Linked DNA regions of Homo sapiens. The protein of the gene in region 2 purifies or fractionates together with the protein of the main gene of each other region. This does not show direct contact. Each region holds a gene or a part of one and is shown on either strand. Other genes may lie near its edges. The genes, in order: HSDL1 and TM4SF20.

Region 1 (11,921 bases), on a different chromosome or scaffold from region 2:
GATGCAAGTCAGGAAAAGTGAGCATGTGTATTTCACGGTGTGACCCTTAAAATGGACCCAAAGTACCCCCTGTCAGGTTTAGTCAGAGAAAAATTCACACTAGAAATCAAGTCGGTTCTAGTATCTACAAGTCAAGGACACTGTTGCTGAATGAGGAATGTGAAGGGCGCATGCTATACACTCTCCCAGACATCCTGACACACGGACAGGGAGTTATTTTACATTCACCATATTGGTTAGGAGACACAGTAGGAATTTGTTTTCAAACTACTATCTGGCTTGAATGAGTGGCAGGAGGTGCTTTTCTGGGAAATCTTCATAAATTAAAATGAAATTCAAAATAGGTGAAGCATTTCTGAAAGTGGCAACACTTTCAAGACAATTTTAAAACAGAGAACAAAAAGGAAAAGCACATAGTAGGAAGTGGGTCTGGAGGAGGACTGGGAACAGGAGAGAGCAGAATAGGAAGGATACCAATCATGAGGCCAGTTCTTCCTAAGATGAGAGCAGTAAGAAAATGAAATGTGAACATAATCACGGCAGGAGCCATAAGTTTTATTTTTTTATCAGCATGTTCCCATAAAAACACCACATTAAATTCAATAGCTCCTTGAATAATGCATCCGACTTCACAGAAAAGATTATTTTGATTATAAAGTAGGTTACCGCTGACAACGGCCCATCTTCCATACTGCTTGATCAAGTCTGCTCTGCTCCCCAGGCGGGGGATAAAATGCAGCCTGATCAGGCTGTAAAAGTCACAGATGACAGTGATGCTTTTTCTGGCCGTATACCAGGCTCCAACCAAAGCTAGAGCTTCCATATAGCAATTGCAAGACCTGGCGATTTCCCTGTACAAGAGGTAGAAACTGTCAACAGCAGCCATGGCAACCTGCAGGGAGAGGGAAAGAGAGAGAGCCTCTTTGATTAATAAATTAAAGGAACATACACAGTCTGAGTGAAGACATCCAGCTGAGGGCATCAGATCTTGTCAATTGTACGTTCAAATAACACTAACTTTTCAAATGTACGTGGCTCACAGTTTCAGTCTATCTATCTATCTATCTATCTATCTATCTATCTATCTATCTATCTATCAGACAGAGTCTCACCCTGTCGCCCAGGCTGGAGTGCAGTGGTGCGATTTTGGCTCACTGCAACCTCCACCTCCCGGGTTCAAGCGATTCTCCTGCCTCAGCCTCCCAAGTAGCTGGGACTACAGGCACATGCCACCACGCCCGGCTAATTTTTTTTTTTTTTTTTGAGACGGAGTCTCGCTGTCGCCCAGGCTGGAGTGCAGTGGCGCAATCTCGGCTCACTGCAGGCTCCGCCCCCTGGGGTTCACGCCATTCTCCTGCCTCAGCCTCCGGAGTAGCTGGGACTACAGGCGCCCGCCACCTCGCCCGGCTAATTTTTTGTATTTTTAGTAGAGACAGGGTTTCACCGCGTTAGCCAGGATGGTCTCAAACTCCTGACCTCAGGTGATCCGCCACCCTTGGCCTCCCAAAGTGCTGGGATTACAGGTGTGAGCCACCATGCCTGGAGATTCAGCCAATTTATGATCTCACCATTTAACATCCGTAGCTTATAAAGTTACTTTCTTCCAAGGAGACTAATCAACATAACTACCAGAAGTTACCAAATTCCCACTAAAATTCAGGTACTACACTACATGCTGTGGCTACAGAGATAAACACAATATGCTCTGTGCCTGTAACATGCTCCTAGTCTAATAATAACAAACACAAAGCTTCTAATTCATACAGCAGAGGTACATGTATTTCTTTGCTTTATTCATAATCAGCAAGAATGGAGGACCTACTACCTGTGTAGGGACAAAGGAGATGAAACAGAGGTGGCACTAAGACATGGCCTTGGCCTCAAAAGCTTACAATCCACTGGAGACAAAACTCAGCTTTCAAAAACCTTTACATCAATTAAAAAAAAAATTTTTTTTAAAGAGATACCCTCCAAGCTTGGAAAAATGGCTTCTCAAATGACAATAGAGGGAGCACTCCTCCATCTTCTAACTTAATTTGTAACCATTATGTTGCCTGGTCTCTTACATTTGAGGAAAGAAAAGTCCAACACAACTCTGTTGAGTGTCCACATAGCAAGTATATACTAAGCACCTACTATGTTCTATGTACTGTGATTCAAAGGATTCACAGATGAACTAAATGACCGTCCCTAGGTGAAGACGCAGACATTTAACAAAATAATGTAAAATGCCACATGATGTGGTAGGTGTGTGCCTGCAATCAGAGATAACCCTGCAGAAGTAGACAAAGGCCAGGCATGGGGGGTCTGGCCACAGACCGAGTGAGTGGACTTCATATCAGGCTAAACCAACCGTGTGCATCCTGCGAAAGACAAAATATCAAAACAACTGCAATAGACTACACTTATATTACAGGGAACTCAGATACACACAAACCCAAGGACACAGCTTATATTCTAAAAAGAACATGATTTTAAGCCAAAAGAAAAAGAAATATAAAACTTCTGGGGGTGGCAACTTTTGAAGAAATCCCTTTAAAATAGAAAAAAAAAAAAAAGTCTGGATACTAAGAAAATACCCAACAATAGCAGCACAAATTAGCCTAAGTTTGAGAAAGAATGGGGAATTCCCTCCTACTCCACTGCAGTGTAATCTGAGCTCAACAAAGTTTTGCAAAGTAAAAAAGGAACCAAGCAGAAGAAAACAAATGAACCACTGAAACGGAACACATACAAGAATGGCACCATATTGTGATAAAAGGCATATAAAATAATTTTAAAACTATTGAATAAATATATATAAATGTGTAGTGTGAATTACAAATCAACAAAACGTACACAAGAAATATGACTGAAAACTGAAGAAATGGAGAAGCAGTAGGATTCCTAAATGCCCTACGATAAGGAAACAATCTCTCTAAAAAAGAAAGTTTCATACTGGTACCGTATTAAGTTGATATTGCTGCTATATTAAGTTACCAAATTAAGCCAATGTGGCATTAAGTTTAAAAAATGTTTTCCTCAGCCGGGCGCGGTGGCTCATGCCTATAATCCCAGCACTTTGGGAGGCCAAGGCAGGTGGTCAGGAGTTCAAGACCAGTCTGGCCAAGATGGTGAAACCTCGTCTCTATTAAAAATACAAAAATTAGCTGGGCATGGTGGTGGGCACATGTAATCCCAGCTACTTGGGAGGCTGAGGCACAGAACTGCTTGAACCCGGGAGGAGGAAGTTACAGTGAGCCGAGATCATGCCACTGCGCTCCAGCCTGGGCGACAGAGTGAGACTCCATCTCGAAACAAACAAACAAAAAAGTTTTCCTCAAATGAAAAGTTGGGCCCCTTTATTCCCTACAGGTAAAATGCTGTCCACTGGGGCTCTGTGCACAGAAACTCACCTCCCACAATGAGAATGCCAAAGTTCATCATGAAAAGGAAACATTTTAAATTTGACTAAGTACATAAACCAAATACTTAAGCTAAAAACAACTAAAATAAATGCTCCTTTGGGGTAATTTTTCTTTATGAACCAGATTGGCTGAGATGACCTAAAATATGAGCTGTCTAGTTCAACAAAGTCTTTCTTTTTTCTGAGCAATCTTCCGTACAGCAGTCACCAATACCCCTTACTGCTCCCAAATCCTTTGATTGACAATCCTTTGAAATATATTCAAAGTTAGGGCCCCCCCTTCAGTGTAGCGAACGAGCATACCTGTTTCCAGATCTGCATGAGAGGAAGCCGCGCCACCACCCCTCCCACAACCCTCCTGCTGCTGGATATGCTGATGACGGGCACGGTATCAGAGTTTTCACACTGGCTGTAGCCCTTGAACAGTCATAAGTACTGGACTCCCAAAGACAGGCCCAAAACATTAATATCCTATAAGAACATTAAAAACTGACATTCCAGCCAGGGACGGTGGCTCACACCTGTAATCCCAGCACTTTGGGAGGCCGAGGTGGGCAGATCACTTGAGGTCAGGAGTTCAAGACCAGCCTGGCCAACATGGTGAAACCTGATCTCTACTAAAAACACAAAAATTAGCCGGGTATGGTGGTGACTGCCCAGCTTGGGTGGCTGAGGAAGGAGAATCACTTGAATCAAGCAGGCGGAAGTAACAGTGAGCCAAGATTGCACCACTGCACTCCAGCCTGGGCGACAGAGTTAGACTCCATCTCAAGAAAAACCCCAAAAAACAAACAAAAAAAACAACCGAGATTCTATGTTAGACCATCCTAAATTGTGAGTTCCGGAAATAACTCATAAAAAGTGTGGGTGCCTTTTGTCATAACTAATCAAACACAAGGCCATGAGGAAAGTAAATGCAAAAACAATTACCTGTATGTAATTACCTGTATGTACCAGGACCTCTCAAGCAAAATGTAATAAAATTGGGAATAACAAGCTATGACTAAAGAAACCTAGACACTTGGAATATTAAGCTTATTCTTCTAATAACAGGTAGGCATACATCTAGGCTGTTAAAACAGTGTTTTCAATGAAAAAATAGATACTACAGGCCAGCCACGGTGGCTCGCGCCTGTAGTCCCAGCACTTTGGGAGGCCGAGACGGGCGGATCACGAGGTCAGGAGATCAAAACCATCCTGGCCAACAGGGTGAAACCCTGTCTCTACTAAAAATACAAAAAATTAGCAGGGCGTGGTGGCGGGCACCTGTAGTCCCAGCTACTCAGGAGGCTGAGGCAGGAGAATGGCATGAACCGGGGAGGCAGAGCTTGCAGTGAGCCAAGATCGCGCCACTGCACTCCAGCCTGGACGACAGAGGGAGACTCCGTCTCAAAAAAGAAAAAAGAAAAAAAAAAAAAGAAAGAAAAAACAGATACTACATATCAAGATCAATGGGTTGTAGCCAAAGCAGTATTTGTGGGGAAATGAGTTGCTCCAAGCCTATAGAGTAAGGCTCTCGCTACAAAAAGGAGGTCAGGCATGCCTCATGGAGGAACCCACACAGATGGAAGCTTCCTCCTTAAGCCCGATTTTTTTCAAGAATCTGAACCTTTTTGAAGTAAATGTCTAGCAAAAGGCGCCTGACCACAAAGGGGGCCCCAGTTTTTCTGCTGTGGTCGTTCCCTGCCCTGGGGTCTCTTACCTTCTCTCTGCCAGTTCTGGGCCGTCAGCAGTATGTGGCTCCGTCCTTCTCTTAAGGCCAATCTGTGAATAAAACCAACAAGAAACAAATGCCTTTCCTCTTCCTCATAGTTCAGCTGGGAAAACTTTACATTAAAGTAACATCCAAGTGCTCAAAAATTAAGAAAACACAACAATTCTTACGCCATGAATCTCTGTAGAGGCAGCAAACCATGTACTAGGCACCAAGTACCCTCCTCTCAGAATAAGAAAAGCGCCTGGCGTCTGCTGGGGGCACAGTCCATGCGTCCTCAGGCACAGCTGGAGGGTGCCCCCTTTTCCTATGCCTTTTTTCCTAGGGAACATTTCATCAAATGGGACAAAAGCCCATTCCAATCCCAGGAGCCCTTGGGGAAACACCGCCCAGGCACCAGGCCGGCATCGGGGAAGAGAGCAGCCACAGCTGTCCTCGGTGCCTTTTTCTGCCTGGTGCCTGTCTGGGTTTCACCTGGGCCTCCCACTGCCTCACTCTGCACACCCCTTCTTCAGCTCCACCTGCAGCGTTCCCTGGAACATCCACATTGCCACGGGCTGCCCTGGCTTCTCTTTCCAAATTCCTGGCAGGGATTCTGGCTCGCCCACCTTAGTTCAGGTGCCCACCACCTGTCTAATCTCCTGGCAGGGTGGCAGGGAGGAAGGCGTCCTACAGTGTTTGGGGGCAGCCCCCCTAGGCTGTGAGTGGGTCAGATGCTTTAAGGAGGAAATGAAAGGAAACCCCTGGTCCACATTTTCCCTCTCCTCCACCACACACACTGCATTGCAACTGTTCTGTCTCTGACCACCCCAGCAGGCTATAGTCCTCCAGGGCAGAGGCCAGATTCTACTCCTCTCTGTTTCTCCAGCACCTTCCACAATTCCTGGCACAAAGAAGCTCAACACTACCAAGTCTCTGGCTGCAGCTCACAGGCAGTCTTCCTGTCCAGCGCTCAGCCCTCAGCTCAGGAGCGGACCACCCACAAATTCCTTTGATCCTTTACAGAAAGAAAAGCTTGTGTGCTAAACCCACCAGGGACCTCCCACTCAGGCCAGCAGAGGAGATGCACCCACTGCAGAGGTGAGTACAGGAACCTGGGGCTGAGGGGCTTCAAGCCCATCATGGCCCAGCTTCTCAACGCCCCCACTAGACACCCCTCACCTCTTGTCAGGGGAGCGCCATCGTGTGCAAGTACCTTAAACGTGTGTTAATATTATTGTTGCTATGTATATTTTAAAAATCACAGAGCATCAGGGGGGCTGATGGCATTCAAGGTCTGGTCCTCAGCCTTGATGGATAGAAACCCAAGTTCTTCATTCCTTAGAGGCAGCTCAAGACAAAGAAATCTGACTCACATCCACAAAACCCACAGAAGACTGATACATTCAAATGCCAAGTTAGGAATGGATAGTGAACAACACAGCGAAGAGGCCTAAACACACACGGTCACTGGTCCTACAGTCTCTCGAGATCTACATGGAAAACCAAACTTCTAGAACAGCAATGAAAAATACAAAGTGTCAGAGACTGAGGACACCATCATGAATAAACCAGGACTCCGTGCCACCCGGTATACACAGAAGTCAGAGAAAGATAAACGGAGCAACTGCAACATGAGGTGGCAAGGGCGCCACTGGGGTGAAATGGGTCTTGAAGTGTGAGCAGAATTTCTGGGCAGAGAGGAGGGAAGGGACCTCCCTGGCCCGGGCCCATGGAGAAAGGCTCGGCACCGTCAAGGGTCTGGCCTACTCGGGAAACATTAGGAAGTCCCCCGCATGCACAGCACAGGCTGTGCTGTCCTGTGTGACGCCCCATGTGTGCAGGCGCACAGGCGTGAAGGAGACTGGGAGAGGCAGACTGGAGATGCCTTCACGCCAGACTGGAGTGCATGGACCTCCTCCTTGAGCACCAAGGGAGGGAGCTGGTGGGGCTTGTTTAGGAAGGTAACGCAGCAGGGGAGGAGGGGGGCTCCTGAGCCCTGGTTACTCAGCTGGGGATGAAGGAGGGCCACACGGAGAGCCAAGGCTCTGTGGCCTCTGCTGCTCCTCAGCCTTGCCAGACACTTCACACATTCACTCACACCCTGATGGGCCAAAGATGTTAGAGAACTGGAAATTAAAACTCATTCCCTGCTCTCAATCTTCTTCCCCACCCTTCTGTACATGATGGAAAATAACATTTTTCTCATGACAAAAGAAATCAGTACTTTCCCCAGAGCCACCAAATTTCAAAAGCTCATAGCCTCTCACTGAAACTTTCAAAGGAATTTATCACACATTTAAGCCTAGAAGTCCACTTAGGCATATGTAGATAACAAGCCTCGTCAAAGTTACTTTAGGTATCTGACTAGTTACTGTTTTGTGGCTTGATTAGCGAAAGCTATTAACCTGTGCTACGGTCTGAGCGTTCCGCCCCACTCCCTGATTCTTGTCTTGAATCTTAACCCCCCAGGTGATGGTTTAGAAGGGAGGGCCTTTGGGAGGCGATCAGATAATGAGGGCTCCACCACCTTGATCTTGGACCATTCAGCCTCCCAAACTGCGAAAAGTAAGTGTTTGCTGTTTCCAAGCCACCCAGTTCATGGTATTTTGTTATAGCAGCTCAAAACCAACTAAGGCAGCCTGCAACCTAGAGAAACCCATGATGTGGAAAGCAATACTAAAACACAGTAAAATTCTGATTCATGTACAATCTACCTGCAAGAACTTATTCTAAAGCTTTATTTTCTTAAACAGAGAGTAGAATGGTGGTTGCTAGAGGTGGGGTCATGGGTGGGAAGTTTTGGTCAAAGGGGTATAAACTTTCAAATATAAAATGCATACGTCTGGAGAGCTAATGTACAGTACAGTGACCATAGTGAGCAATACCAAATTGTAGGCTTAAAATCTGCTTAGAGGGTAGATCTCAAGTGTTCTCACCATAAAGAAATAAAAAAGTAACTGAGGTGATGAATGTGTTAACTAATTTGGTTGTGGTGATCATTTCACAAAGTATACATATATCAAATCATGTTGTACACCTTAAATTTATATAATTTTATTTGTCAATTATACTTCGATGAAGTTGGAAAAATATAAAATAATTTAAAAAAATTTTTAAGCTTTGTTTTCTCATCTCTGCAGAAAACTAAAACATCTGTGAACAAAACAAAACCACAACTGTCCCCAAACTAGGAAAAGAAGAGCAAGTCCCTATTATCTTTTAAGCATTTTCTACTTCTACAGGGCAGGAGTCATCAAAAACCTACAGGAAACGTTACAACTACAAAAGCGTCACGGGACAATTATGGTCAAAACTGCAAGTAGCAAAGTCACCTCTTCAAAGCACCACTGCTGTGGCCTGTAACATGATCCCACTCCACAGTGAAGGGGACTCCACCTAGCAGTGTAAAGGGCAATCAACTCAAATAGAAAAACCTTCATGTACCAAGAGTTCTGGGAGGAAAGTCTTGGCTGAAACATGGACATTACCAAGCTATCCAAATGCGTGTGACGTGGGGCGGGTGGTGAAAGAACACAAGGCAGACTGGCCAGGGTTTTAAAGAAGACAAAGCAAGCAGGATGGAAAAAAAGACAATCAAAGCATTAGCGAACGACAGTGTGGTGGGCACAGTAATGGCCTCCAGGGATATCTACAGCCTAATCCCCAGACCCTGTAAATACGTCACCTTATGTGGCCAAAGGGACTCCGTAGATGTGACTGAGTTAAAGACTCCGAGCTGGGGAGGGTGGGTCCAATGTCATCATGTGTCCTTGTAAGGGGGGCAGGAAGATCAAAGAGAGAGAGCCATGTGACTACAAAGGGAGAGGTCAGAGAGAGCTCGAGTTGAGGGTGCTCTGTGCTGCTGGTTTCGATAATAGAGAGAGGGGTGGGTCACCAGTGAAGGACGGGGGGTGGCCTCTAGAAGCTGGCAGAGGCAAGGAAAAGGATTCTCCCCTGGAGCCTCCAGAGGAACACAGCCCTGCTGACACCTTGACTTTAGCGCAGTCACAATGACTTCAGATTCCCATCTCCAGAAGGAAGAGACATCTGTGTCATTTTAAGCCACTACCTTTGTGGCAATTTGTTACATCAGCCACAGGGGATAAGGATAAACAGTGGGAGGAAGGGATGGATGAACAGTCAGTTCAGCTTTCAGGACAGCGAAGAGACAAGCTGAAAACTCTGCAACCTCCCTTAAGCCAAAACCACTATGTGTATTCAGGAGCCAGAAAGTCTCAGAGGTTCCTGCCATCTTTGACTGACCAGGGTAGACCTGAGGTCCTCCTCCTCACCAGCTGGGATTATCCAGCTTTTCAGTAAGGCTCCAGGGCGATGGCTGTTTTCATTGATGAAAACATTTTTCCAAATAAATCTTAATTTTTTCAGAGTGTGAATCTGTCTTGTGCTCAGTACTCCAAATCCTCTGTTCTTCCTGACGTTTCAAGTCCCATGTCTTCTCCTCCGTTCAATCACTTCCTAACAAGCACCAACAACATGTCAGCCCTGGGGAGAAACTTCCCTTCCTGTCCCTTCCCTTCCCAGGCCGTGGCACTGCCCCCACCTCTGAATTCCTCTCCACCTCTCTTACCCATGTGGCACTTAGCACACACTGCTTTGGATTCTATTTAAACACTCAACTTGCTTATATCTTGGTTTCTTGGTTGTCCAAGGAGAGCACAGGCCTCTGGAGGGCAGGAGATGTATAGAAAACGAATTTTTCTGTAACTAAAAGAAATTTTTGTTTTTAGGCCGAGTCTTGTTCTGTCTTCCAGGCTGGAGTGCAATGGTGCAATTTCTGCTCACTGCAACCTCCGCCTCCTGGGTTCAAGCGTTTCTCCTGCCTCAGCCTCCCGAGTAGCTGGGACTACAGGTGCCCTCCACCATGCCCAGCTAATTTTTGTATTTTTAGTAGAGATGGGGTTTCATCATGGTGGTCAGGCTGGTCTTGAACTCCTGACCTCAAGTGATCCACCCACCTCGGCCTCCCAAAGTGCTGGGATTACAGGCGTGAGCCACTGCACCTGGCAAAAATGTTTAAATATATACAAAAGTATGTAAAACCTATTATGCACAGTTCAAAGAATAATAAAACAGCCACTTAGCCACCAGCCTACTTAACAAAACCAGTGTCGTGGAAGTCCTGTATGCTGTTCCTCTGATTACAGCCCCTCCTCTATCCTGGAGGCAGCCTCTCTCCTAAATTCTGGGGTAGTCACTCCCTGACTCTTTTAACAAAACAGCTGTATACCCCAAGCATGTATTCTGAAACAGTAACAGTATTGCTGGCCGGGCGCGGTGGCTCACGCCTGTAATCCCAGCACTTTGGGAGGCCGAGGCGGGCGGATCACGAGGTCAGGAGATCGAGACCACGGTGAAACCCCGTCTCTACTAAAAATACAAAAAATTAGCCGGGCGCAGTGGTGGGCGCCTGTAGTCCCAGCTACTCGGGAGGCTGAGGCAGGAGAATGGCGTGAACCCGGAAGGCGGAGCTTGCAGTGAGCGGAGATCGCGCCACAGCACTCCCGCCTGGGCGACAGAACGAGACTCCGTCTCAAACAAAAAAAAAAACAGTATTGCTAAGTTTCGCCTGGTTTTGAACCTCACATAAAGGAACCACACCACATGGACCCTTTGGTGACTTGTTTCTTTCACTCAACATCATTCCCGAGACTCATCCATGCCCCTGCAGCTATATAGTCCATCCTCCTCGGCAGCTGCACAGTATCTCACGGTTCAGATGCACTGCAGTTCACAGGTCCCCCTGCTGCTGGTTCAGATACACCACGATTCACAGGTCCCCCTGCTGCTGGTTCAGATACACCACGATTCACAGGTCCCCCTGCTGCTGGTTCAGATACACCACGATTCACAGGTCCCCCTGCTGCTGGTGCTAGGCACGTGCACTGTTTCTGCTGGTTTTGATTTACAGTTAGGAACAGTGCTGCAGGGAGCGCTTGTCCCCATCTCCTGCACACCTGTGCAAGAGTTCGCAAAGGGATTTGCCCATGGTTTAACTGCTGGTCCACATGCATTCCACTGCCAAATGCTTTTGCAAAGCGGCAGAACCCATTCACACTCCCGCCAGCAGCAGGTTCGTGCCACTCCTCAATGTCACTGGCTGGTAGCGTCCAAAGCTTCACCTTCTGCCAACAGGGTGGCTGTGAAATGGTATCTCATTATGGTTTTAATTTACATTTCCCTGGTTACTAGTAAGGCTGCAGTCCTTTTTATATGTATGTGCTTTCTGTGTTTTGTAATCTATGAAATGCCCGTTCCTATCTTTTGTCCTTTCCTTTTTTTTCTCTCAGAATTGTAAGAATTCTTTAAATATTCTAGATACTAGCTCTCTGTATGTTTTGTGTCTCATTATAGTGTCTTTCATGAACTAAATGTGTTGTTATTATTATTGAGACAAGGTCTGGCTCTATTGCCCAGCCTGATGTGCAGTGGCATGATCACAGCTCACTGCAACCTCCGCCTTCCGGGCTCAAGCCATCCTCCCACCTCAGCATCTCAAGTAGCTGGGACACAGGCATGTACCACCAAGCCCAGTTAAATTTTTTTTGTGTGTGTAGAGATGAGGTTTCACCATGTTGCCCAGGCTGGTCTCAAACTCGTAAGCTCAAACCATTCACCTGCCTTGGCCTCCCAAAGTGCTGGGATTACAGGTGGGAGCCACTGCACCTGGCTGAATGTCTTAATTTTGAAAGAGACAAATATATCAATCTTTCTGCTTTAGGGTTTGTTTTATTTCAGAAATCCCTCCTTAGCCTCAGGTCATGAAGAAATTTTTTCGAATTATTTTCTAGAAATTTTACA
Region 2 (11,921 bases):
AGCTTTCCTTTTTCCTTCCTTCCTGCATGAATGTGTGTTTCCAGCTCCTTAACTATAGTGATTGCCCAGCCCTTATCCAAAATTCTTTGGACCAGAAGTATTTTGAATTTCAGAGTTTTTCAGATTTTCAAGTATTTACATATACATAATGAGATATCTTGAGGATGGGACCCAAGTCTAAACATGAAATTCATTTATATTTCATACATACCCTCTACACATAACCTAAAGATAATTTTATACAATATTTCAAATTTTGTGTATGAAACAAAGTTTGTGTATGCTGAACCATCAGAAAGCAAAAAGCAAAGATGTCATAGTGATATCTCAGCCACGCATGTGGACAGTCGGGTTTTTTGCCATCACTATCATTCCTGACTCTGAGTGTATATGCTGCCAATAAACAGTCATTTTTTCTTAACACTTTTTCACACATAAATACTTAACATTAAAAAATGACACACTATTAATACAGTGAAAAAACTGCGTTCAAGTAACTAAGCAGCACAGGGGCATCACCAGATACTGCACCAGCTGTTAGACAACAGCCACAACCAAGAACAGCCACGGCAAGTTTCCTGTCCCCACTGGCGGTACTGTTGGAGTAAAGATTACTGGACACTATTTTTTTCAGTGAGAAGAAACATGAGAAGCAGTTGAGAGGCTAGGAAGTGGATCCTGTGGAGACGAGGCATTCTTCTCAGTGGCTTTTTAAAGTATTTCTTCCAGAGTCATCTACCTCATGAACAATGTTTTTGTCTGAGAAACCTCTCTTTGCTTTTATAAACTGACGTGATTTCTTGTTCTGTTTTGAATACACACTGCTCTAGTCCTTCAAGAAGCCCATCACGTATTTTCACCATATAATCTGTAGGCACTTTTTCTGCAATGTTAATGTCTTCACTATTAGGATCACCTTTGATTCAGAACCGTTCAGCTATTTCACCATGGGTTGATGAACAACTGGAGACCCATCATCGATGTTAAAAACTTCAACATCCACTTCTTCCAGCTTACTGACGGACTCTGAAGGTATATTTTTTACATATATAAGGAGGTCAGACATCATTTTTTTTTCTCACTTGACATAGGGATTCCTTCCAAGTCACCACCTTGTTTATCATCATCACTGAACATAGTTGCAGGCCAGAGGTTGTGCTGGACATTCAGAACTGTGTCTTTAGTCACCGTGTTCTAGTTGTTGGCAACAGCATATGGCATCCTTCATGCTAAACTTGTTTTGGAAACCTTCTGTGCCATGCCCTGTTCACTGCTGCTAACATGCTATTCCAATAAAGTTTTTATATTTACTCATTGATGTAAGGATACTCTGGTCACTGGCTGAATTAATGAAGTCACATTTTGGGGAAAGTACATGGCATAAATATTTTGGGGGGTGATGAGAAAATTTGTAAGCACCATTGCTGACCCTTGTTCACTAGAGTACAGTGAGCTGTCTTATTTTTGTTTTAATTACATGACCATTAGCAGTTTGACAGTTCATTGAGTAAGTATCGAGTCTTCGCTAAAAGCTGAGTACTGAAGATAGGATTCATTAATTCATTCAACTAAATGCAATGTTTCTGCTTTGTACCAGGCACTGTACTAAGTACTCTTTATACCAGGAGGGAATAAACATGTTCCTGTACCCCTGGAGCTTATAGTCTAATGGGGGACAGTGAAATTTAAGAAGCAAGCACAAAGGAAAATGCAATCATCATTGTGATAAATGCTGTAAATGAAAGCATGGTAAAAGAGTAAAGGGAAACCTAGTTTTCATTAGACGTTTAGGAATAGCCTCTCAGAAAAAGTGGTATTTGTGCTGAAGTCAAGGATAAAGAGTGCTGCCAGAGATAAGGCAGGTGGGGGTAGGAATGGGGCTGGAGGTGGGGAAATGAGAGGCGTTGCTAAGGACCTGAAGAGGTGAGGGCTGATGAACGTGGTTCCTGTGCTCCTGAATACTATAGTGATGGACGTACAAACACATGTATGTTACATTATGACAGGAATGATAATAGAGGCTTGGGTAAGTGCTGACTTGGTTTATTGGATCATGAGCACTGGGAAGGCTTCCTCAAGTAGGAGATACTTAAGCTAGGCCTTAAGGACAAGTAAGTATTTGTAGGGGTGTAGGAAGAATGTTTTTATATAGTAAATGTTCAGAAAAAAGGCTTATAAGCTCTTGATGTTACTAAATTTATTTAGGCAGCTATAATGTAGGTACTGCAAATTATTTCTGGAACCTTAAGCCCAATGAACATAAACAATTGAAATATAGAAATAACATTCAGAAAATTTTAGATTTTTAGCTTTGCTGTTTTACAACATTTTAATGTGATAAATACCCTTGTTATCCTGTTTTTTAAAGATTGGCACATATAGAAAATAGCTTTTGAAAGTCTTGGGTTTTTCTAGGTATTGTTTTTTAATTAATGAATAATGTAAACATAGGAAAATAGGAGGGTATAATGAATTGCCATGTACCTGTCACCTAAATATAACAGTAAACATCTCCCCGTTGCTTTTGGTTGAAGTAATTTTAAAACATATAAATATGCATTTCTTTTTTTAAAAATGAGGACATTTCTGTATACAGGTTGAGCATCACTAATCCAAAAATTCAAAATCCAGAATGCTCCGAGATCCAAAACTTTTTGAGCCAGTAACGTAACACCACAAGTGGAAAATTCCATACCTGACCTCATGTGATGAGTTGCAGTCAAAATGCAGTCAAAATTGTGTTTCATGCACAAAGTTATTTAAAATATTGTGTGAAATTACCTTCAGGCCAGGTGTTCAAAGTGTGTATGAGACATAAATGAATTTTGTGGTTAGACTTGCATCCCATCCCCAAGATGTCTCATTATTATAGGCAAAATTCCAAAATCCAAAAAAATGTGAAAGCCAAAACACTTCTGATCTTAATCATTTTGGATAAGGGGTACTCAGCCTTTATACTATAAAACCATTATCAGACCTACCAAAATTAACAATAATCCGATTCTTCTACATACTCCTCCCAATTATCTCTGACAAAGTTTACATGTGTTTAGCTGAAACATGCCTCTATTCTCTTAATCTATAACAGTTCCCTCAAAAATATTTTTCTTTTATAACATTTTCCTGTTGAAAATTGGGCCATTCTGTGCCCGCTGACCCACTTTTTGGATTTGTCCTAGTGTTCCCTGCAAGCTGAGAATTAGATCTAAAGACTTGATTGCATTCAGGTTATGTATTTATTCTTTAAAGAAATACAATAAAAAGGTCCTGTCCTTTAGGCGCGATGGCTCATGCCTGTAATCGCAGCACTTTAGGAGGCTGAGGCAGGCAGATCACTTGAGTCCATGAGTTCGGGACCAGCCTGGGCAATATGGAAAACCCCCATCTCTACTAAAAATACAAAAATTAGCTTGGCATAGTGGCACGCACCTGTAGTCCCAGCTACTAGGGAGGCTGAGATGGGAGAATCACCTGAGCCCAGGAGGTTGAGGCTGCAGTAAGCTGAGATAGCACCACTGTACTACTGTACTCCAGCCTTTTTTGAGACCCTGTCTCAAAAAAAAAAAAAAAAAGTCCTGTACTTTTATTTTCAGGATGACTTCCGTTCCTTCTCATCCTCCTTCCCTTCTCCTTTCTCTACACACAGTGAAGAGGTAAAAAATTTGAATAGTACAACACAAAACTAATTGAAAATTCTCTCCACCTTTCCCAAATCAACCACTGATATGAGAGTGTTATGCATTTACAACGTGCTTTCTACGTGAAGGGTTGATTTTTTAAATCATCTCAAAGATGACTTTGAAAACAAGTGTACTTCTCAAATTAATTCAAACTACTGATACTTACATTTTATTCCCATTAAACTACACAATTTGACTTCTTCGCTTAGAGACTCCACACAGACAGCCAAGGAAACCGATGACTATCTGACTGAGCCCAAACAGGACCTCCAGAATTCCAACAAGCAATAGACCTAAAAATACTGAGAAGTGGATAAGCCTATGTTTGTTTTCTTCAGAATCGAAGTGGAAACTAGATGCTCTCCAGCCACTCGCCATGGTGTCGTTACTGGTGGGTTTATTGAAACCAGTAGGAGGTGCACAAGAGTCATTGAAAAACCACTGCAAGTTGAAGGATTCTGGATGAATGTCACTGAAAAACAAAAGATAAAAATCAGATATTCAGAAATATCCCTGACCAAAGGAAAGTAGCATTGTGCACATAAAAGAATGAGTGAAACGAATGTACTTTTGAAATATCGTGCCCAGAAATGACAGAGATCAGGGTTTCTGAGCATGTGTCCATATACTCTACTAGTTACAAAACTTTTATTACTTATATAGCCCATCATTTAACAAGCATCTCTATGGTACATCTTCTCTTAGGTTGAACGGTATGAAACTGCTGTTTTGGGATGTCAGAAATAGTTGAATGTCAACAGTTTTTCGTGGTTCAACCTATTTATTTTATTTATTCAGATACTCTTCTACTTGCTAGATATAAAAACTAAGGAGCCTCCCCTACCCCCCGCCACCCCCATTAAATGAGCTCAGTTCTTAGTGCAGAACTACAGCGTGGCGTCCGTTCTTCAACCAGATGTACAGTTTTTACTGATTAAATATGTCTGATTAAAGTGATGTGCCTGTTCTTAACGGGGCTGTGGAAAATGAGAAACTTTTAGCCCTAATACATCTATCTCAAGATGATTTTTTGTTTGTTTACTGTAGAGTAAAATGGAATGTTCTTAGGGAGTTTGCATTGCTGGATATCAGCAACTGACATTCAACCTGGGAAAACAACAGTATTTTCAGCACATGGAATATGAGTGTTTTGTGAAATGTGTAGCAAGCCAAGGATCACTCTCTTGTAACTTTGCTAGCCTAGCCCATCTCCGCAACTAGGCTGAGAATATCTGAGCGCTGTTGTCTGCAGAGCGTAGCCTGGTGCCTGGTACATTGTGGGCTGTTGTCATTCCCTGGGGATTTAATGTGCATAGCATCTGTGGTAGAAATCTTTAACCCTTTACTTCAAGTCTATTAGCAAGGAGACTTTCCTTGGCTTTGTTTTTGAGACACAGTCTCACTCTGTCACCCAGACTGGAGTGCAGTGGCTTGATCTTGGCTCACTGCAACCTCCGCCTCCTGGGTTCCAGCAATTCTCCCGCCTCAGCCTCCTGAGTAGCTGGGACTAGAGGCGCGTGCCACCACGCCTGGCTCATTTTTGTATTTTCAGTAGTGATGCAGTTTCACCATGTTGACCAGGCTGATCTCAAACTCCTGACCTCAAGCGATCCACCTGCCTTGGTCTCCCAAAGTGCTGGGATTACAGGCGTGAGCCGCTGTGCCTGGCCTTCCTTGGGTTTTGGTTCAAAACAAATATGCTACACAAAATTTGAGGGACTTTCTTTTTTAATGTAGCAAGGTAAGGGAAAAGGAGAAAAAATTTTTTGTATGTAACTACAAAAGTAAATTCTGGTTATTTGCTAAACTGAGCAGGCTATACAGAGAGGTAATGGATTAGATAGTTTTTTTCTTCCAGTTTTTACAAATTGTGTCTAGATTCAGTCACAGAATGATGTACTTAAAAGACTAAAATGAGCCACTTATTAAGTACATGTAACTCTCCAGTATTACTTGTTATTACATGACTTAAAATTTGGATTCATTCCCATGCATACAGTATATTTATAGCATATCTGTATGAATCCATTGGTTGCTCTTCCATTTAAGCCTACAGGCAAGGCTCTGCATTTTATTTATTGTGTTTTTATTAAATTTTTTAAATTGTAAATGTAATATTTGCTCATGGTTGACAAATTTAATTAGTTCAGAAGTGTAGAAAGTAAATGTTCTCTTCACTCTCATAAAGGGAATCCCCTATTTCCATTCTCCAAGGATGAAAGTTAAGTTTCTGGTGTATATTTGCATAATTTTTTAATATACATACACATATGTAACTGTAGATTTTTGAAAGACAAGCATAAGCCATTTGAGATCAACTAGTCCTTTTAGACAATATCTAAAAGTCCTTTTAGAGCATTGTAAATCTAATGATTCCTCCATTTTGATGTGGAGTTGTGCTAACTGGCGTTAATGTACTAAAATTCCTAAGAATCCGTTTGTCCCGGCAGTTGCATCAAATAAAAACATGGCATTGTTCCAGTACTGCATTAATCTAATCAAACTAGTTCAACTGTGTGAGACAGTAAGCCTGTGAAAATCAAGTTACTTACCTGATGTTTTTCAATGAAAATTCACAATTGGCATTACTGTTGCTTGGAGAATTACACATGAGAGGACCTTTTAAGAGAGCCTGGATGGATATCAGCATGCAATACAGAGCACCAATGACTGTGATCACACTGAAAAGTGATGAAAGAAACATCTGAAAAATAAAATAGAGCCATTTGCACATGTTATGACATGTTCTTGATCTGTTTCAAGCTTCAGGAGCGTATACAGTCTTTTTTAAATCCAGTCGCCCTAAAATCCTGGATCTTAAGATCACAGTTTATTAGGTGTGAATGATACAAAAAGGCAGAGGGCAGTCTCTGCTATTTGATTACACTCAATAAAAGATGGTTGGGGCTGGGCATGGTGGCTCACACCTGTAATCTCAGCACTGTGGGAGGCCAAGGTGGGTGGATCACCTGAGGTCAGGAGTTCAAGACCAGCCTGGCCAACATGGCAAAACCCCCTCTCTACTAAAAATACAAAAACTTAGCCAGGCTTGGTGGTGGATGCCTGTGATCCCAGCTACTTGGGAGGCTAAGGCAGGAGAATCGCTTGAACCCGGGAGGCAGTCATCCGAGATCGTGCCATTGCACTCCTGCTGGGTGACAGAGCAAGACTCTGTCAAAAAAAAAAAAAAAAAAAAAAAAAAAAAAAAAAAAAAAAGATGGTTTGGCTTGTCACTGTCTCTGGAAAATCTCAACTTTCATATTCCTGAGTCTCATCTGTTTCTTCTGACCACTGAGATCTAGTTCCTCCCTGTTTTATGTACTTCCTACTTCATAGAATCTTGACTGGATCTTAACTACGTTTATCTTCATGTCTGGTCTCTTGGCTCGCAAGCGTTTGGCCCTGATGCTTTAAGTGAATTTGGCCCTGATGCTTTAAGTGGCCAGTGGCCAGCATCCCACAGTGATCAGTCAACAGCATAGAGTTAGAACAGGACTTCCCAACCTCAGCACCAATGACATTTGCACACTTCGCTGTGGGGCCTTTCCTGTGCAGTGTAGGATATTTAGCAACATCACTCATCTCTACCCACTAGATGCCAATATCATCCCCCGACGCCTTGCCACCTCCAGCCCGGTTCTGACAACCAAAAATGTCTCCAGGCATTGCCAAATATCCTCTTGGGGTGGAGGTGGGTGGGTAAAATAACCCGCCGGTTGAGAGCCACTGTGTTAGAAAGATTGTACACATCTTTATTTCGTGAGTCAGTCATGAGAGCAGAAGAAGGCATGGAATTTGGCATAGGAAACTGAATGAAAGTTCGTGTTTGTTTTTCCAAAAATAAGCTCTTAGGCCAGGCACAGTGGCTCATGCCTGTAGTCCCAGCACTTTGGGAGGCCAAGGAGGGTAGATTGCTTGAGCCCAGGAGTTCGAGACTAGCCTGGGCAACGTAGTAAGAGCCCATCTCTAAAAGAAAAAAAAAAGAAGGAAACTTTTGTATTGTTTCAGTGAAGTTGTTAGTCACTGATGATTATTTCAAAATCAGCAGAAATGAAGCGAGGGAATGCTTTTCCTTTTTCTTTGCTGGGATAATGCAGCTCCCACAGGGTCTGTGTGTTGTGTTCTTGAGACCTGCCTTTTATGAGTGCAGAATAAGGTGGCTACCTATAGAGTTGTGTTGAGGGATGTTGTGCTCTACATATATCATCTCATTTAATTCTTTTCATAATCCCAAGAGGTAGATACTATTATTATTTCCATTTTATAGATGAGAAAACTGTGTATCATGGAGATGGACAAAACTTGTCAGGCTCTCACAGCTGGGAAACACTTTAATCACTATTCTTCTTCCAGCCAAAAGTTCAGAATGATGGATTTGGAGTCTACTTCAAATCCTGATTCTTCCATGCTACTGTGACTTGTGCAGTTACTTAAATGTACTCATCAAGAAGTGCCATGGTGTTTATTTTTAACCATCTATTTTTTTTTTTTTTTTTTTTTGGAGACGGAGTCTCGCTGTGTCGCCCAGGCTGGAGTGCAGTGGCATGATCTCGGCTCACTGCAAGCTCCGCCTCCCGGGTTCACGCCATTCTCCTGCCTCAGCCTCCTGAGTAGCTGGGACTACAGGCACCCGCCACCACGCCCGGCTAATTTTTTGTATTTTTAGTAGAGATGGGGTTTCACCCTGTTAACCAGGATGGTCTCCATCTCCTGACCTTGTGATCCGCCCGCCTCAGCCTCCCAAAGTGCTGGGATTACAGGCGTGAGCCACCACGCCTGGCCGCCATCTATTATTTATATATATATATATATATAATTTTTTGTTTTTGAGACGGAGCCTTTCTTTGTTTCCCAGGATAGAGTGCAGTGGCGCTATCTGGGCTCACTGTAACCTCTGCCTCCTGGGTTCAAGAAATTCTCCTGCCTCAGCCTCCCAAGTAGCTGGGATTACAGATGCCCGCCACTACACCTGGCTAATTTTTTTATTTTTATTTTTTGTATTTTTAGTAGAGACAGGGTTTCACCATATTGGCCAGGCTGGTTTCAAACTCCTGAACTCAAGTGATCCGCCCACCTCAGCCTCCCAAAGTGCTGGGATTGCAGGCGTGAGCCACCGCACCCAGCCATATTATCTTTGAGTTCTCATCCCTACAAAAGGCCTGGCTTTAGAAAGTGATTCCAGGCATGTGTATTTCCCCTAAAGGGGATTCACTTAAATGATTCAGCAAAACCATTTTGTATTCAGAAGCAAAAATAAGAACTGGAAAAAGGGAAGAAGCAAAGAACAGTTAAAATAGGGGACAAGCCTTGGTCAACCCTTTCCCTTCCTCCCAAGATGTTGCCTTTGCCACTTGTCTCATGTTTTGGTCTTATCTAGGCCTCAAAGACACCAGATACGACATAAAAACCAGTTCTTAGAGGATACACCTATCGGAAAAGCCTATATAAGTGTTTTGATATTTTTGATTTCAGGAATTCAGAAATGTCTCAGGATGTCAAGAATGTTGTGAACACCACATAGAAAAGATACAAAGTCAAATTCCAAATTATTATCGTTTACAAAGAAAAGTGACAGGGAAGGGAAACTGAAAATTAGTGTTTATTGAATACCTAAAATGTATTCAGACAAAAATAGACTAGAACTAATTAGCATAATTATTGTAATCCTAGATAAATATCAAATGTCAGAAAAAGGGTAATTTTTAAAAATATGAATCTTCCATTATGGATAGAAATATCTGGTTTGTTTTTTTTAAGTAGTGGTTCTAACCCCTGGCCAAATTATCTTGAGTGCTTTTGAAAAATACTGATGCAGAATCTCTGGCGGCCACCCAGGCACTGGTATTTTTTTAAATCTCTTTAGATAATTCTAATATCCCCATCTGTCTTTTTTTTTTTTTTTTTTGAGAGAGTCTTACTCATCTGTTGCCCAGGCTGAAGTGCAGTGATGTGATCTCGGCTCACTGAAACCTTTGCCTCCTGGGTTCAAGAGATTCTCCTGCATCAACCTTCTGAGTATCTGGGATTACAGGCATGGGCCACCGTGCCCAGCTAATTTTTGTATTTTTAGTAGAGACGGGGTTTCACCATGTTGGCCAGGCTGGTCTTGAATTCTAGACCTCAAGTGATCCTCCCACCTCAGCCTCCCAAAGTGCTGTGAGCCACCGTGCCCAGCCTAATGTTCCCATCCATCTGAGAACCATTGCTCTGAAAGCTCAAGCTCAGCCAAGCAGATTTACTGTGACTGCTTGCTGTCAATCTACCCCTTCCACAGGGAATTGTGAGAGTCCTTATGTTGCTTAATAGCCATGTTCATGGTATAAAGATCATGAATTGTGGGGTGCTCCAGTGGGTTTGGATAAAAATCCACTTACTAGTGTGCTACACTGGCAAATTATTTACTTTCTCTGAGCGTCCATTCCTTCGTCAATCAAACACACTTCTTACTTTTTCCCACTTAAGGGTTTTGAGAGAATTAAATGAAACAGCATCTCTGAAAGTGTTCTGAGCAGAGTGACACTCCGGTTAATGAATCTTAATTTACTTTTAACTTCGTTACGACTTTATACATAGTGGGTAGGCATTAAATGTTTTGGGGGAAAAAAACCTGGCAGCTCCTTTAATTTAACTGGATAAAGGCAATTGTCATTCTAATCCTAGCAAACCAGTCTGTCATTGCATGAGAGAACTGAGTACATTTTCCCTGAGTATTTTATATACGCCACAAAAATATCACACCCGAGTATTATGAAATTGATTGCAGCTGTGGGCGTGACTTACCAATCTCCTTTCTTTGAAAACCTTTAGATTGAGGAAAGGACAATCCACGGAAGACTGAGGAAGGGACAGAAGGCCAACTCTAAATGTTTGTGGGACAAAAAAACCCGTCTCACTTTTTCTACTTCTATATAATCATCCTAAATAGCATGTTTCAGGCCAGGCGCAGTGGCTCAAACCTGTAATCCCAGCACTTTGGGAGGCCGAGGCGAGCAGATCACTCGAGGTCAGGAGTTTGAGACCAGCCTGACCAACATGTTGAAACCCCCATCTCTACTAAAAATACAAAAATTAGCTGGGCGTGATGGTGTGCACCTGTAGTCCCAGCTATTCAGGAGGCTGAGGCAGGAGAATTGCTTGATCCCGGGAGGCAGAAGTTTCAGTGAACCGAGATCGCACCACTGCACTCCAGTCTCAGCAACAGAGCAAGACCCTGTCTCTAAATAAATAAATAAAAATAGCATGTTTCTAAGGCTGTGGCTCTGTCAGTGGAGCCCCACTGTGATTCGGTAGATGCGAGTGACTCAGTGTGGCTTTGCTTAGGTAGCAATAACTGTTCATGCACTTCTGCTTCCACGCCGACTGCTTCATACTTACTCCAGTTCTGTTGTTGCAGCACGCTCTTTTTCTTGCTGTCAAGGACATTGTTGTTGCTGGAATGGCCTGGAAATGACATCAACAGGAAAGATGAGTATTATAACTTCTCATCAGAAGAAAAAATAGTAATCTTCACCTTCCGTTTACCACCAGTTGTGGGAAATCAAGGCTCAAAGAACAAAAAGGGAATTTGGCAATATCCGTGGTTTTGTGAACCTTGTCATCCCAGTTTCAACCAGAAAGATTAAAAGTGGCGGCGGGAACAGGGGAATTCAAGACAGGAGTTTTGAAGTCTTCTATCTACATTCTTAGTTCACTCTGAGTCATCTGCAGAGAATTGGATTTTAAATAGATTAGGATGACTTATTTATACATTATTTTTGGAAGAAATGTTTCTGAAAGAATTGGCTGCATCATCCAAACTCTGTTGTTTGTTTGTTTAAAGAGTAGGGGTCTCACTCTCTTACCCAGGCCAGAGTGCAGTGATACGAGCATAGCTCACTGTAGCCTTGAACTCCTGGGCTCAAATAATCCTCCTGCCTTAGCCTCCTGAGTAGCTAGGACCACAGGTGTAGACCACCACACCTGGCTAATTTTAAAAATATTTTTGTAGAAGCAAGATCTCACTCTGTTGCCCAGACTGGTCCTGAACTCCTGGCCTCAAGAAAACCTCCTGCCAAGAAAACTAAAGATGTGAGCCATTACGCCTGGCCCGATTTCCCAGAAATTGTATGGATTATTCTGGCAAACCTGCAGAAAAGAAATTGATGGTTTTGTTTGCCTGGCAGTTGGGAACAAATCATTCTGTCACCACCCACTCCCACTAGCCTTTCTTTTCCCAGGATCCCGGCTATCTTGCTGGTTTCC

What was found.
Region 1: the proteins of TM4SF20 (region 2) and HSDL1 purify together in Homo sapiens (affinity purification with mass spectrometry; 3 studies listed by BioGRID and IntAct, with this or other methods). This does not show direct contact.

The regions. Positions count from the first base shown.
Region 1 is NC_000016.10:84,130,436-84,142,356, forward strand, and holds part of HSDL1 (inactive hydroxysteroid dehydrogenase-like protein 1), read right to left. Parts: intron 9,823-11,921; exon of another isoform or gene 8,788-9,822; intron 5,171-8,787; 5' UTR 5,109-5,170; intron 893-5,108; 5' UTR 887-892; coding exon 667-886; intron 1-666.
Region 2 is NC_000002.12:227,359,861-227,371,781, forward strand, and holds the end of TM4SF20 (transmembrane 4 L6 family member 20), read right to left. Parts: intron 11,121-11,921; coding exon 11,055-11,120; intron 6,385-11,054; coding exon 6,233-6,384; intron 4,153-6,232; coding exon 3,864-4,152; 3' UTR 2,178-3,863; downstream 1-2,177. UniProt on the Homo sapiens protein: Polytopic transmembrane protein that inhibits regulated intramembrane proteolysis (RIP) of CREB3L1, inhibiting its activation and the induction of collagen synthesis.